2 linked regions of the Homo sapiens genome follow. The protein of the gene in region 1 interacts with the protein of each later gene in a pairwise test. Each region holds a gene or a part of one and is shown on either strand. Other genes may lie near its edges. The genes, in order: ERCC6 and DCLRE1A.

Region 1 (5,446 bases):
GATTTAGATACCAGACCCTCCTCCTTTCCCTTTTCATTAGGTGGAGTCTCAGTCTCACCCTGTCAACCTCACCACCCTGGCACATGTGTTGTCTTGTGACCCTTCACAGCCTTTGGGGAAGGAAGTGGGGGCATAAACTAGAAATTAAATATATCAGTATAGTGGTCTTCTTTTTATAGGATGGCATCATGAAAAAGGAGGGAAAAGATAATGTCCCTGAGCATTTTAGTGGAAGAGCAGAAGATGCAGACTCTTCATCCGGGCCCCTCGCTTCCTCCTCACTCTTGGCTAAAATGAGAGCTAGAAACCACCTGATTCTGCCAGAGCGTTTAGAAAGTGAAAGCGGGCACCTGCAGGAAGCTTCTGCCCTGCTGCCCACCACAGAACACGATGACCTTCTGGTGGAGATGAGAAACTTCATCGCTTTCCAGGCCCACACTGATGGCCAGGCCAGCACCAGGGAGATACTGCAGGAGTTTGAATCCAAGTTATCTGCATCACAGTCTTGTGTCTTCCGAGAACTATTGAGAAATCTGTGCACTTTCCATAGAACTTCTGGTGGTGAAGGAATTTGGAAACTCAAGCCAGAATACTGCTAAACAACATTGCTTCCTAAACTTTCAAGTCCCTTTTTCTAACGGGCATTTCTGATTATTAATTTATTATTAATAATCATGTTTGTCAATGGAAGTTGGCTGCACTTGATGTTTGTTTGCATGATGTCTACCTCAGAATTAAAACTTTAAGGAAGAAGAAACTCTTCTCTGAAAGTTAAAAGTTTTAATAATGCTAGCTAAAGGAGAAAATACTTGGATTGATTTTTTTTTTTTTGGCAATCTAATTATATTGTAAATCAGGTACCTAACAGTTACTCCTTGGAGCACATTTGTTCCTTTACCCAAAAGATGCTGTCAGGGAGCACAGTTAGAAGTTTGCAGAACAGAAATCTCAATATTTTTTTTTATTGGTGCTAAAAACAGGTCTTACATTCAGTCAGACCTGTTCAATAAGTTCATCAATATCTGATAACAGCATTATTTTGATGCTTAAACTTTAAACATTTATATTTACCATTTGCCACCCACAAAGGTCAGGTTTGTTATTTGTTGTTTGATAATTATATTAATTTTCTTGGAAAGATCCTCTTTTCAAGGTACTGGTAAATTGGTGAGTATTTTTATTAGTAAAGCATGAAATAGTATGGTAATAAATGATAAGACATGTATTTGTGGAAAGCTGTAGGGTATTCAGTTTACCCTGGCTTTCCTTTAAGCAGAGGGCATCTTTTTCTCTCCTACAGTCACAAAATGTGTTATCATTAAAAAAAATCAAATTAAAGCCAAAAGTAGGTACATAAAAACCACACACATGCATGCACACAAACATCACTGCAGCCCACAGCAGACCCAGCCGTTGTTACCATGAAGTGACACCACTCCAGGCCTCTCTTGTCTGCAGGCTGGCAGGCTGTCTTCTCTCCAGTTGCCTTCGTCTTGCGCCTGCCTTTGCATTCCTTGCGACGGGCTTTCTTGTTTCTGCGGTTTGGATTCCAGCCAAGGCTGTTTGTATCTCACTACTGTTTATGTGTTTGTGGTTCTGTGATGGTGTTGCTTTGATCCTCAGTTTATTTTCTTACCCATGTTTTTCTTGTTTCCTTCTCAGGATGATTTTATCATCTCATCTTTGAAGTGTTGTTTTCCGAAATTCATCGTATTCCTGAAATTTCTTCTTAGCTGTCTTAGTGCAGTTTGTTTCTTGGATTTGTATTCTCTGGCATGCTCTTTTCCTCTCTCTCATTTTTCTGTAGTATGCCTGCCCTCCTACCCTGCTATTTCTTTACATCTCTCTCATGCTTAACATGGATAGCTGTGTCCAGATCTTCTGTCTGCTCATCCATGTGACTCAGAGAGGAGGGTTCTGGGCAGGGGGGCCTTGCCGGACTGCATGAGAGGACATGAGTTTTGCTTTCTCTGCTCTAATATTTTGCTTAAGCCAAGAATCCTTTTCTTAGAGATGTTCTATATGATTCCTGTCAGGATTTTCTAGTTTTTTTTGGATTATAGCTTGTTCATTTCTTTTGTTTTTAGTTTGGTTTATATATAATGAGGGAAGAAGATGATTACATTATTTTTGTCACTTTGCCATCATTGTTTAGAAGTCATAGAAAGAATTTTTAAATAGGCCAATAAGTCTTAAACTTGAGTACTTGGCTTAGAAGAAAGTCAAAACTCCTTCCTTTTTGACTAAGTGGTTTGTTTCTGGGGAGCTCTTAATTTCTATTTTTATAATCATTAGCCTATAAGGAAATTGTGTCTTCCTTGTTCTCAGGGTGATCTGCTGACCTTGTTCACTCATGAAGCATTTGGGTATCATACTTATAGTGTCTGAAACATAAACTGTATTGAGCTAGACAAGGTATAGCCTCCTCTTCAAGTAGCAAATACTATCAAAAGCTATAATGCAGTAGGAGCAAGGTGGTCCTTGTTCCAGTTTTTGTCTCAGTTCTGCTGCTGATGTACCATGATCTTGGGAAGGTGGTGTCTCAGTGTGGAGATCTGACACATTGTTACCGTGCCTCCTGGCTGGAGGGACTTGGAGAACAATGCAGTTAAGTAGAATGGTTTTAACAATACAGAGAAATTTATTCATTTAGATAAAAATCTGATTTTTAGAACTTTAAAAGCTTTGTACAGTGTAAATAGATTTAATGTATTTAACATGCTTTATCAGCACAAATAAAGGATTTTAAAATTTTGTCAAAAAATTAAATGTTAATACTATCACCATTAAAAATGTTCAAGCAATAGTCTGCCTCCCCACCCCCACACCATCTTGCACCTGTTCCACAGCTAAGTACAGCCCTAGGTTTGGTGTGTATTCTCCATGCATTTAGAGAATCACATGACACAGACTGCTGCTATAATGTCATTTTCCCATTCTTCCTTTACTAATAAAATTTTTGAGTTTTACCTGGACGTCTGGCTGCTCAGCTTAAGACTACTTCTCAGCCTCTCTTATAGTTAATTGTGGCCATATGACTAAGTTTTAAACTTCCCAATTGGCCCTTTAAAGAAGCAGGGTATGCACTCTCCTTGACATTCCCCTTTCTTGCTGGCTGGGAGGCCAATGGGAGCTTCAGTAGTGACCTGGCATCTCAAGAGATGGAAGTGATGTGTTGAGGAAGGAGAAGTTGGCCTGCCAGTCTTGAACTGCTCTCCTTTGACCTGTTATTTAAGAGTAAAATAAAATACTGACTTGCTTAAGCTACTGTCTTTTGAAGTCTATTATAGCAATTAGTTTGCTTTAAATATGTAATTTATATTAATGGCCTTATACCATCCTTATTTTGCAACTAACTTTTCATTTAATATTATATGCAAGACATTTCTATTCCTGTAAGTATAGCTCTGCCTGCACAGAATTGTTGGATTAATGATGTAGATTTTAAATGTCAGTGGATGTAGCAGAATTGCTTGCATCAATTCACCCTCCATAAAAGGACCCATTTCTCCAAACCCTTGCCAACAGTAAGTGGTATCAATATCGATAGGTTGTTTTGTTTTGTTTTAACCAGTCTCGTGATTGAAAGTACCTTGTTTTCACTTGAATTTCCCTGATTACGTACAAAATCAAACATTTCCATGTTTATTGGCCATTTGTAGATCTCTACCGTACATTGCCTATTAGTGTTATGTTGGCCTAGTTTTCCTGTGGGTTGTTTATCTTTTAGGATTGCTCCCCTAAACAAAAACAAAAAGGCAGTTATTCCAATGATCAACAAATATTCTTTTCTCCACCAGTTTAAAATGTCAGCTTTCAACTCATCACATGCTAAGTTGTCTATTTCTGTCCTGTGGATCCAGGTGTTGGTTCTACCAACCACACTCCTCACGCTGTCATTTGGTGCTTTGCATTGTGTTTTGCCATTCATGGGCAAGTTCCTTTTCCTTTCTCCCCCTCTTCAGTGTCTTATACTTGGGTGTTTTCTGTTCCAGCTGAATCAAGAATTAGTTTATTAAATTCCAGTAAAATTGTGGTGTTCTTTTGACTAGGATTGCATTTGTTTACACATTAATTTGAGAATAATAGACCTCTTTATAATTAATATAATGTTTCTGATTAGTGTTATGATAGGCCTCATTTTATTAAAGTCTTTTATATTCTTGGATGAAATTTTAATAACTTTCTTCATAAATGTCTTGCACATTTCATAATAGGCTTATTCCTAGGTGTTTTATAGATTTTTAGTTTTGGTTGTGAGTCTTTTAACTTACATAAAAATATGGAGAATTAGCATATTCACATATCTATTTTGTGATGTTTATCATACGGAAGTTTTAAAATATAGTAAATTCAGTCTTTCCATTTTTTTTTGTTTATTTAAGAACCATTCCCTAGCTAGGGTCATGAATACATTCTTATGAATTATTAATCCCATATGGATAGCTAGTTTCCCTAGCACCTTTAAAAAATAGTTTATTATTTTCCTCCTGATGTATAAGGCCACCTTTACCAATTTACATATAATGTACGGAAATGTTTCTTGGCTCTGCATTCTGTTAAATTGGTCCATTTATCTAACTTTGCTTAGTAACCCACTGTTTTTATCATTGTGGTATCATAATTGATTATCACAAATGGTAGAATGATTGTCCTCAAAGTCTTTTCTGGTATATATTGATATAATTGTATAGCTTTTCTTGGTGTAGTAAAGTACACAGTTAAATTTTCTAACATTGAAATATCTTTTAGATTTTCACTTCCAGAATGGCAATGTGAAGGGCCCTGTGGACCCACTGTCCTAGGAATTAGCTATAACTAGTGAAAATTGTAACAAAAAATAAACACCTTCCTCTCATACAGAGAGACACAAACACTTAATGCCACTGGAAATTGTCCTAAAAGCATGTAGAATAAAGTAACGCTTATTCAAGAAAATCCAAATCTTGGTAAGAACAGTGAGTCAGACATTTCAGCCACAACACACTCACTCCCTCCCTCCCATTTCAGTGGGTGCAGCCAAGAAAACAGAGCTCCGTCTCCCTCAGCTCCCTGTCCAGAGGTATGGTACCTCACAGGGAGGGGCAAGATGCCAGCATTTCTTATCCCCTCCAGCTTCAAGTGGCAAGAGCTAAATTCATGAAGTTAAAAACTATAATAAGGAAAAAATGCACTAAAGGGGTTCAATAGTAGATTTGAACTGGCAGAAGAAATTGTCAGCCAACTGGCAGATAGAATAAGAGAGATATGCTTTCCAAAGAACAGAGAGAAAAAAAATGAAAAATGAGCAAAACCTCAGAGAAATGTGAAGCACCATTATGTGCACCATTAAGTATGCATGTAATGGGAGTACAAGAAGAGCAGAAGAAAAAGGAAATATTTAAAGATACAATGACTGAAAACTCTCCAAATTGATTGAAAAACATCTAGGAAGCTTAGTGAACTT
Region 2 (7,301 bases), about 64 Mb from region 1:
AAGATGTTATATTTGTTATATTAAATTAGAAAACTTCATGGCTTACAACCTAACTTAAAAATGCCTCTTAAAAGCATTTGTTATAGAATGGAATTTAATTCAAGAGCCATCTGAGAGTCTACTCAAAGGAGTTTAGTGAAAAACCAAAAGAAAAATTTTTTGAGGTGGCTTCATCTATATGACATTTTACCCTAAGGTCTTCAACCATGGACTCCAATTTCCATTCTTGATTTTCAAGTTACATGAAAGAAAATTACTAGCAAATTTGTGAGGTTTTCACTTGCTATCCTTTTCTGGGAAAGGCTAATGCCAAATTTAAAGAAGAGTTGTTTTTTTTCTGTATCTTCATGCAGTACTTTAAAATAACTACAGGTTAATAATAAAATGTATTCTGAATCATAGCTAACATGAAAGCCATATTGAGTATTTTTTTATTTTACTGAATTTTAACTTTTTCAGATTAAAAAAATCCATATATGGAATATAAATGATTTCAAAATATATAAATCATCACAACAACCTGTTCTCCATATGTATTCCAAGTAGGATTTTCTACATTAAATACTTATTACATATTTTAAAAGATAAAAAACATAGCATACTTTTATTATCATTTGACACGTTTTTTGTTAGAATCTTAATCACCTAGGACTCCTTCACAGTTCCTCTTCCTGTATACATAGCACGATGACTAAAACATAACCATATTTAGAAACCACATTATATCTATACTTTTTTTTTTTTTTTTCAGACAAGGTCTCCCTCTGTCGCCCCACCCAGGCTGGAGTGCCCTGGCATGATCACAGGGCCCTACAGCCTCGACCTCTTGGGCTCAGGTGATCCTCCCACCTCAGCCTTCCAAGTAGCCCACCACACCTGGCTAATTTTTGGTAATTTTTTTTGTAAAGATGGGGTTTCACCATGTTGCACAGGCTGGTCTTGAATTCCTAGGCTCAAGTGATCCGCCTGCCTCCACCTCCCAAAGTACTGGGATTACTGGCATGAGCCACTGTGCCCAGCCTATTTATAATTTTCTATGGAGTTCCATAATAACCACCAACTGGGGCCGGGCGCGGTGGTTCATGCCTGTAATACCAGCACTTTGGGAGGCCGAGGCGGGCAGATCACGAGGTCAGGAGATCGAGACCATCCTGGCTAACACGGCGAAACCCCGTCTCTACTAAAAATACAAAAAATTAGCCGGGTGCGGTGGCGGGCGCCTGTAGTCCCGGCTACTCGGGAAGCTGAGGCAGGAGAATGGCATGAACCTAGGAAGCGGAGCTTGCAGTGAGCCAAGATAGCGCCACTGCACTCCAATCTGGGCAACAGAGAGAGACTCCGTCTCAAAAAAATAAATAACCAATTGGACAAGTTATCTGACTTTTAAGAACTTTCATCTATAAAATGTCAATACTAGCTACCTTATATGGTGATTGTGAAAGTTGGGTAAGTAGACAGTGTGAAAGTACCCAGCATAGTAAGGATTCAGTTAACATTTATGGAAAATAATCCAGATACTTAGGAACTTTTATGAAATAACACAATGTATTTAAACTGTTTTCTAGTCTGCCATTTGCTTTACAATTATACCGTTGACTGGTATGGTGTTTCCCAGTGTCTCATCTCTCTTTTAGGTTACTGCTTGCCTTCCTTGTTTCACTGAATTGGTATGTCTGACCTAATGAAGACTTTTTAGATTATTTAGAAACTACTACGTTTTCTGCAGTCTTACCTGTTTCAGAGCGTGGTGGAGAATCCAAACATTCAAAAACATGCCATCGAGGTGTCTGCCCTATCAATGAGGAAAAAGGCATCTGGCAATTTGGACAGTATCCATCATAAACTGGACGTATCTTTGGGGACACGTGTTGGCTTTTTTGAGTTCTACAGAGTTTTCCTGGAGTAGTTTCCTTGTCTTGGGTCTGCTGAATACCATCTCCACAACTTGAATTCTGACTAGAAGCAACAGAAGTCTGACAACCTGCATTTCCAAGGGGCACTTCATGGTCCTTCACCTCTTTAGCTTCTGCGGCTCTTTTTCTGTTTCTACTCCGTTTTGACTGGTATTTTCCATCTGTTGCTTTTTCAACAGATTTTAGAATATTTTTAGAGCCATTATTTGGATCAACTCGTTTTGGTTTTCTTTTAGATTTGTATTCCCAAATGTCTTCTTCGGAAATGTCTTCTAACATGGCAAAATGATTTTATCATTCAAGAAGTATTAATCTTAAGTAAACTGAAAGTCCATTTCTTGTCACAAACAAAAAGTTATAGAATTATTTTGCTGAGAAAAAAAACAAAGGTAACAAAACCCCCACCAACTCAATGGGAATCTGCAGTGTTGGTAATGAACATATTGGCAAGCTACAAACCTTGTACCTGACAACACCTGCTATTCCATTTATACCACAATGAAACTAAGATAAACCTATCACAGGAGTAGCAACTGTGAAGTTCTCCATTATGGGTGCTATTTCATTCAAATATCTTGTCCTTTTCCAGGGCTTGATTCATAAAAATAATACTTCAAAAATTAAGCGCTAATGGCAAATATAGGTTCAACAGCTTAATCTTAGAACGAGATTTGTAACATTGTTATGAAGCTACTGTCAGTTCTTTCAAGTGGACAACCGTCCAAATAATTCATAAATCCAACCACAGTCCCTGGACAAAGGGCTTAACAGGTATCCCAAACACTAAATGACTATCTAACAAAACTAGTCACAACATAATCAAAGAGATGTGTAATTCGCAAAAAACTGCGAAGTCACTGCCCTCATCCACGACTAGTGGATACTCAACCACTTCAGTTTCCCGCGACAGTCCATGATCTTCCTCCAGCAGCAATGAACAATCCCTGCACAGTGAACAAAAAAAGTTGATATGTGAAAAAAGTTCAAATATGTGAAAGAGTGGGCTTGTATTGAGGTCTGACTCCGTATTGCACCCATGGTTCCGAAGGTGGCCAGCCCTCTGTCCACCTGACTCAAAACGGGGTCACACGCCAGCCTCTCCCTTATCTTTTGGCATTAGAGGCTGGGAGGCCAGGAAGCGGGGCCTTAATCATCTCCAGGTTAAGCATAGCGAGCTCCAAAAAGCCCTCAGAGTCCTGCCCTTCTGAAGACTCTAAGGCCCGCCCTCAAGGACCCTCACCGCCCCCCACCTGCCACTCGGCACCCCAAGGGAGCCGCTCCAGCTGCATCCGCTCCTCCCGGCACCCCCATCTAAAAATGTGTTCGCGCCCGCACTTTCAGCACTCCCAGATGACAAAACGCTGTGTTTGTGTATAAGTGAAAGCCACTCGCGCCAGTCACTTCCAGTTTACAAAGCCTTCTCTCTGGAGGTTATCCCTACCCGCTTTACCTTTAGGGTCTTGGCGGGAACAAGTTCCCGCTGCCAGTGCCGTGTCGAATCGGCGGATGCTGTTCAAAGAGAGAGACTTTAAAAATAATTTTTAAAAATACATTGCCCTTTTAAGTCCTACGGATTTATTGTATTTTATTTGTGTTCGAAAGTCCGCTAATTCCCAATGTGGAGGGTTGGGGATGTTTCCCTTAGCGCCTCTGGGACGCTGTCCCTAAGGCCTTATTCCATGTTGAATCTGACGCTCTCAATGTCCAGGCTCGGCTGCGGCGTGGGGACCGAAAAGGGGCGGGGTGGGTCGGACGGCAGTTTAATTACGTCCCCGGGAACTGCGCCGATTTGGACTTTTGGCACTTGGACCTATGCTTTAAAAAGAAAAAAGTGTCATTGGCGTGGAGTGGGGCTAGTGGAGGGTGAGGTGAATGCGCCGTTTGGAAACCACAGGACAGTGAACGTTTCGTCTCTCCCAGCGAGACTCTCCCGCGGGCCCGGCGGCCGCATCGGGAGCCCGGCGGAAACATGGCGGCGCCCGGAGGCCGGGGCCGCAGCCTCTCCGGCCTGCTCCCCGCGCAGACCTCGCTAGAGTACGCCCTGCTCGACGCCGTTACCCAGCAGGAGAAGGACAGCCTGGTCTACCAGTATCTGCAGAAGGTGGACGGCTGGGAGCAGGACTTGTCAGTACCCGAGTTTCCGGAAGGTGAGGGGCTGGCGTCGGGGTGGGGGCCCCTCCCGGCACCTCCCCTTCCTCGGGGACGGCGCCCTCCCGCGAAGCGGTGGGCTAGGCGGGTTTGTGCCGCTGGCGCCCCGGGGAGTGGCCCTTCGCCTAACTTGGGCCGCTGTTCGCGTGTTCTGCAATTCCCAGGGGTCCCCAAGCGGCCACCGACGGGGGTTTCCCTGGCACGGGGATCCACATACTCGTCTGTGTATCCTGAGTTCCGCCCGCGCCTGATATTAGCCAAGTGGACACTCCGTGAATATTTAGTGTCCCCGGTGGCAATGATTGCAACGTCCACACCATTCTGTCCATTCAATCTGGTTCCCCAGTGTCTTCTGGTCATCTTTCTGCATCATCTTGACATTTATTGATCACTTTTTCATGTATCACACACAGGGTTTTTTTTTGTTTTTTTTTGATACGGAGTCTCGCTCTGTCTCCCAGGCTGGAGTACAGTGGCGTGATCTTGGCTCACTGCAACCTCCGCCTCCCAGGTTCAGGCGATTCACCTGCCTCAGCCTCCGGAGTAGCTGGGACTACAGGCCCGCGCCACCACGCCTGGCTAGTTGTTTTGTTTTGTTTTGTTTTGTTTTGTTTTGTTTGTATTTTTAGTAGAGACGGCGTTTCACTATGTTGGCCAGGCTGGTCTCGACCTCCTGATTTCAAGTGATCCTCCCGCCTCCGTTTCCCAAAGTGCTGGGATTACAGGCGTGAGCCACCGCGCCCGGCCTGCCACACACAGTCCTAAACACTTGAGGGGATACCTAAACACTTGAGGAGATATTACCTTATTCAATTACCTCTATATCCCAGTGAGGTGCTCCTATCATTCCCCTTTCACAGTTGAGGAAATGGAAGCACAGAGAGGTTAAGTCACATGCCCAGGGCCTCACAGCTGATAACTGCCCCAGTTGGATTATACAGGCCCTGGATTTGCTGGTTTCTTAGCTGTACTGTGCTTCTCCGTTCAAAGTCGTGAAACTAATACTTTTAAAAATCGGAATCAATTATAGCCTATTTCCAGGGTTTAAATCCTGGCCATGTGAGCTTTTGGAGCATGAAGGAACAGATATTCCCGGCAGGGATGTTTGTGAAGCATATCTTGCCATGATAAATGAAAACGTATTTTACCTTCTTTGGATGGGAGTAGCATTGCTTTGCCTGATGGTGCTGGCATGTGTCCTGGCGTGACACTGAAACCACATGTATAGTTAATTGGTTGGATGTGGCAGAATTCAGTTATCTCATGGGAGGTATATCGGAACCTGCCTCCGACAACAGAGTATTGGTGTCTTTCCAAGTCTTTTGCACTACTCACCTTGAGAAGTGCTTATTTTTCCTGCTATTAATCTTATACTGGATTTGAAATATTGTGGAATTCTTACAAAAGAATTGGGTACATGAATGCTTATCCCATCAAACTTTAAAAGATTGTTTACATCTATACAAATATATGATTTTAAAAAGTTTTGGTGCAGAAGGTAGTTATATAGTAAGTACACTGTTATAAACAAGCAGGCCATCAACTGGGATTTGGGGAATGTTTTTTATTTTCTAGTCTTGTTTGTATTTACAGGGAGTGTATTTTATTCCCATGAGATTTGACCTCTGTGACTCATAACTAAAAAAACATATAATAAAATATTCAGGCTTTGTGTTTAACACAGTATGATTTTCTCCTGGACCCGATTATTGAGGACAGAATGCTAGAAATGACTGTTTTCTTGGTTTCTTTAGCAGTAAACTATAATCAGGAAGTCATAAACATAACTTTATTTGAAAAACTGTATGCTTTGTTCATTTCTTAGAAGACTTACATGTTTATAGGAGACAGTGCAGTGTAATGGATAGATTCACAGAGACCTGGAATTAGATCCTTGTTATTTCCATTTTGTTGGTTGTGTGATTTTGAGCAAGTTACTTGACCTCAAAGCCTTATATTTCTCACTTGCAAAACTGAACTATTATTTACCTTTCAGGATTATTATTTGTATTGAAAGTAATATATGTAAAATTCTTAATTCACAGAAAAGCTTACTAAATGTTAGCAGCTTTTTATTGTATTCATTGTAATTATTGTTATTGTAAAATAAATTTTATTAAGCCTGGTAAGTATCTAGCACGGTGACTAAGATGTAGTCATTCTTTCTATACCCCCTGATCTAAGCCACTCTTGACTATTTACAGAAAAGTCACAGAAGACAGATTAATAAATATTTTGCAAGTAGGATATGAAATATACATTAATTAGTCTGAAGTTTTGTATGATCACTTGATCTGGTATATAATTAATATTTTAACAAAATGGATAATTAAGAGGTCACTGTACCCTGAAACCTCATTAGTTTGGACTAATTGGCCCAAATACTAGTTTGATCTGCAGATTTTTTTTTCTAGAATTTTGTTATGATTGAGTAACAACAGTTATTGTTGTTAATCATTAGCTGTTACTGTTTACTTCTTCCTCCCAAGTTTGGCTTTCAGTTGCTAAAAGCTATTCTAAATACCTGCTTCAAGGCATAATTAATAGTTGTAATAGCTGCATTGAGTTATTTATAAGCAGTAAACTTTGTTTTCTTAAATTGGTTAAATAGGGATGCTGTACTTTATTATTAGTTAACAAAATCTTTCTTCATAGTACAGAGCTTTCTTTTTTTGGAGGAAAGGGAACACGTTCTTCATTAATATTAATGTTACCTCAATGAAATCTGTGACAATAATAAGTGTATTTTGCTTAACTTTACATTTAGCATATTTTATTTTGTATTTACGGTCTCATCCAAATCCAGAATATTTCAGTTTCTTCTCCTTTAGGAAACTGTTTTAGGCATTTTGTATGTTTATCCTTACACACATTTCACTCCTTTTTGATGTTTAGTTATATCTTACTATTCTTAAGCTTGACCTTTATTCTCAGTAGCCCATTTGTATCTAATTGTTTATGTAATTAGGTTCATTTACTATTTGATATTTCTTCCTTTTTTTTTTTTTTTGCCTAAGTGTGTTGCCTTTACTCCTTTTCACAGACTGTTACCCTATTTCTGAAAGAATTTAGTAGCTTTTTCTTGCTTTATTTGCAGATGGCATCATAATAGCAGCTTTCCCATCCTCTACTCCTCCTGCTCCCCCACCCGTACCCCCATCCCTTCCTTTTCTTTCTTCCCTTTTTGGGCTTTTAATCTCTGCTAATTTGCCTTTTTGGTATGTTCTTCCAAACCCAAAT

The links.
Region 2: the proteins of ERCC6 (region 1) and DCLRE1A interact in a two-hybrid assay, tested with the Homo sapiens proteins (one study listed by BioGRID).

The regions. Positions count from the first base shown.
Region 1 is NC_000010.11:49,453,968-49,459,413, reverse strand, and holds the end of ERCC6 (DNA excision repair protein ERCC-6), read left to right. Parts: intron 1-179; coding exon 180-599; 3' UTR 600-4,944; downstream 4,945-5,446. UniProt on the Homo sapiens protein: Involved in repair of DNA damage following UV irradiation, acting either in the absence of ERCC6 or synergistically with ERCC6. Involved in the regulation of gene expression.
Region 2 is NC_000010.11:113,850,991-113,858,291, forward strand, and holds the start of DCLRE1A (DNA cross-link repair 1A protein), read right to left. Parts: upstream 3,093-7,301; 5' UTR 2,193-3,092; coding exon 1,733-2,192; intron 1-1,732. Other genes in the region: NHLRC2 (NHL repeat-containing protein 2), read left to right, coding at 3,883-4,060. UniProt on the Homo sapiens protein: May be required for DNA interstrand cross-link repair. Also required for checkpoint mediated cell cycle arrest in early prophase in response to mitotic spindle poisons.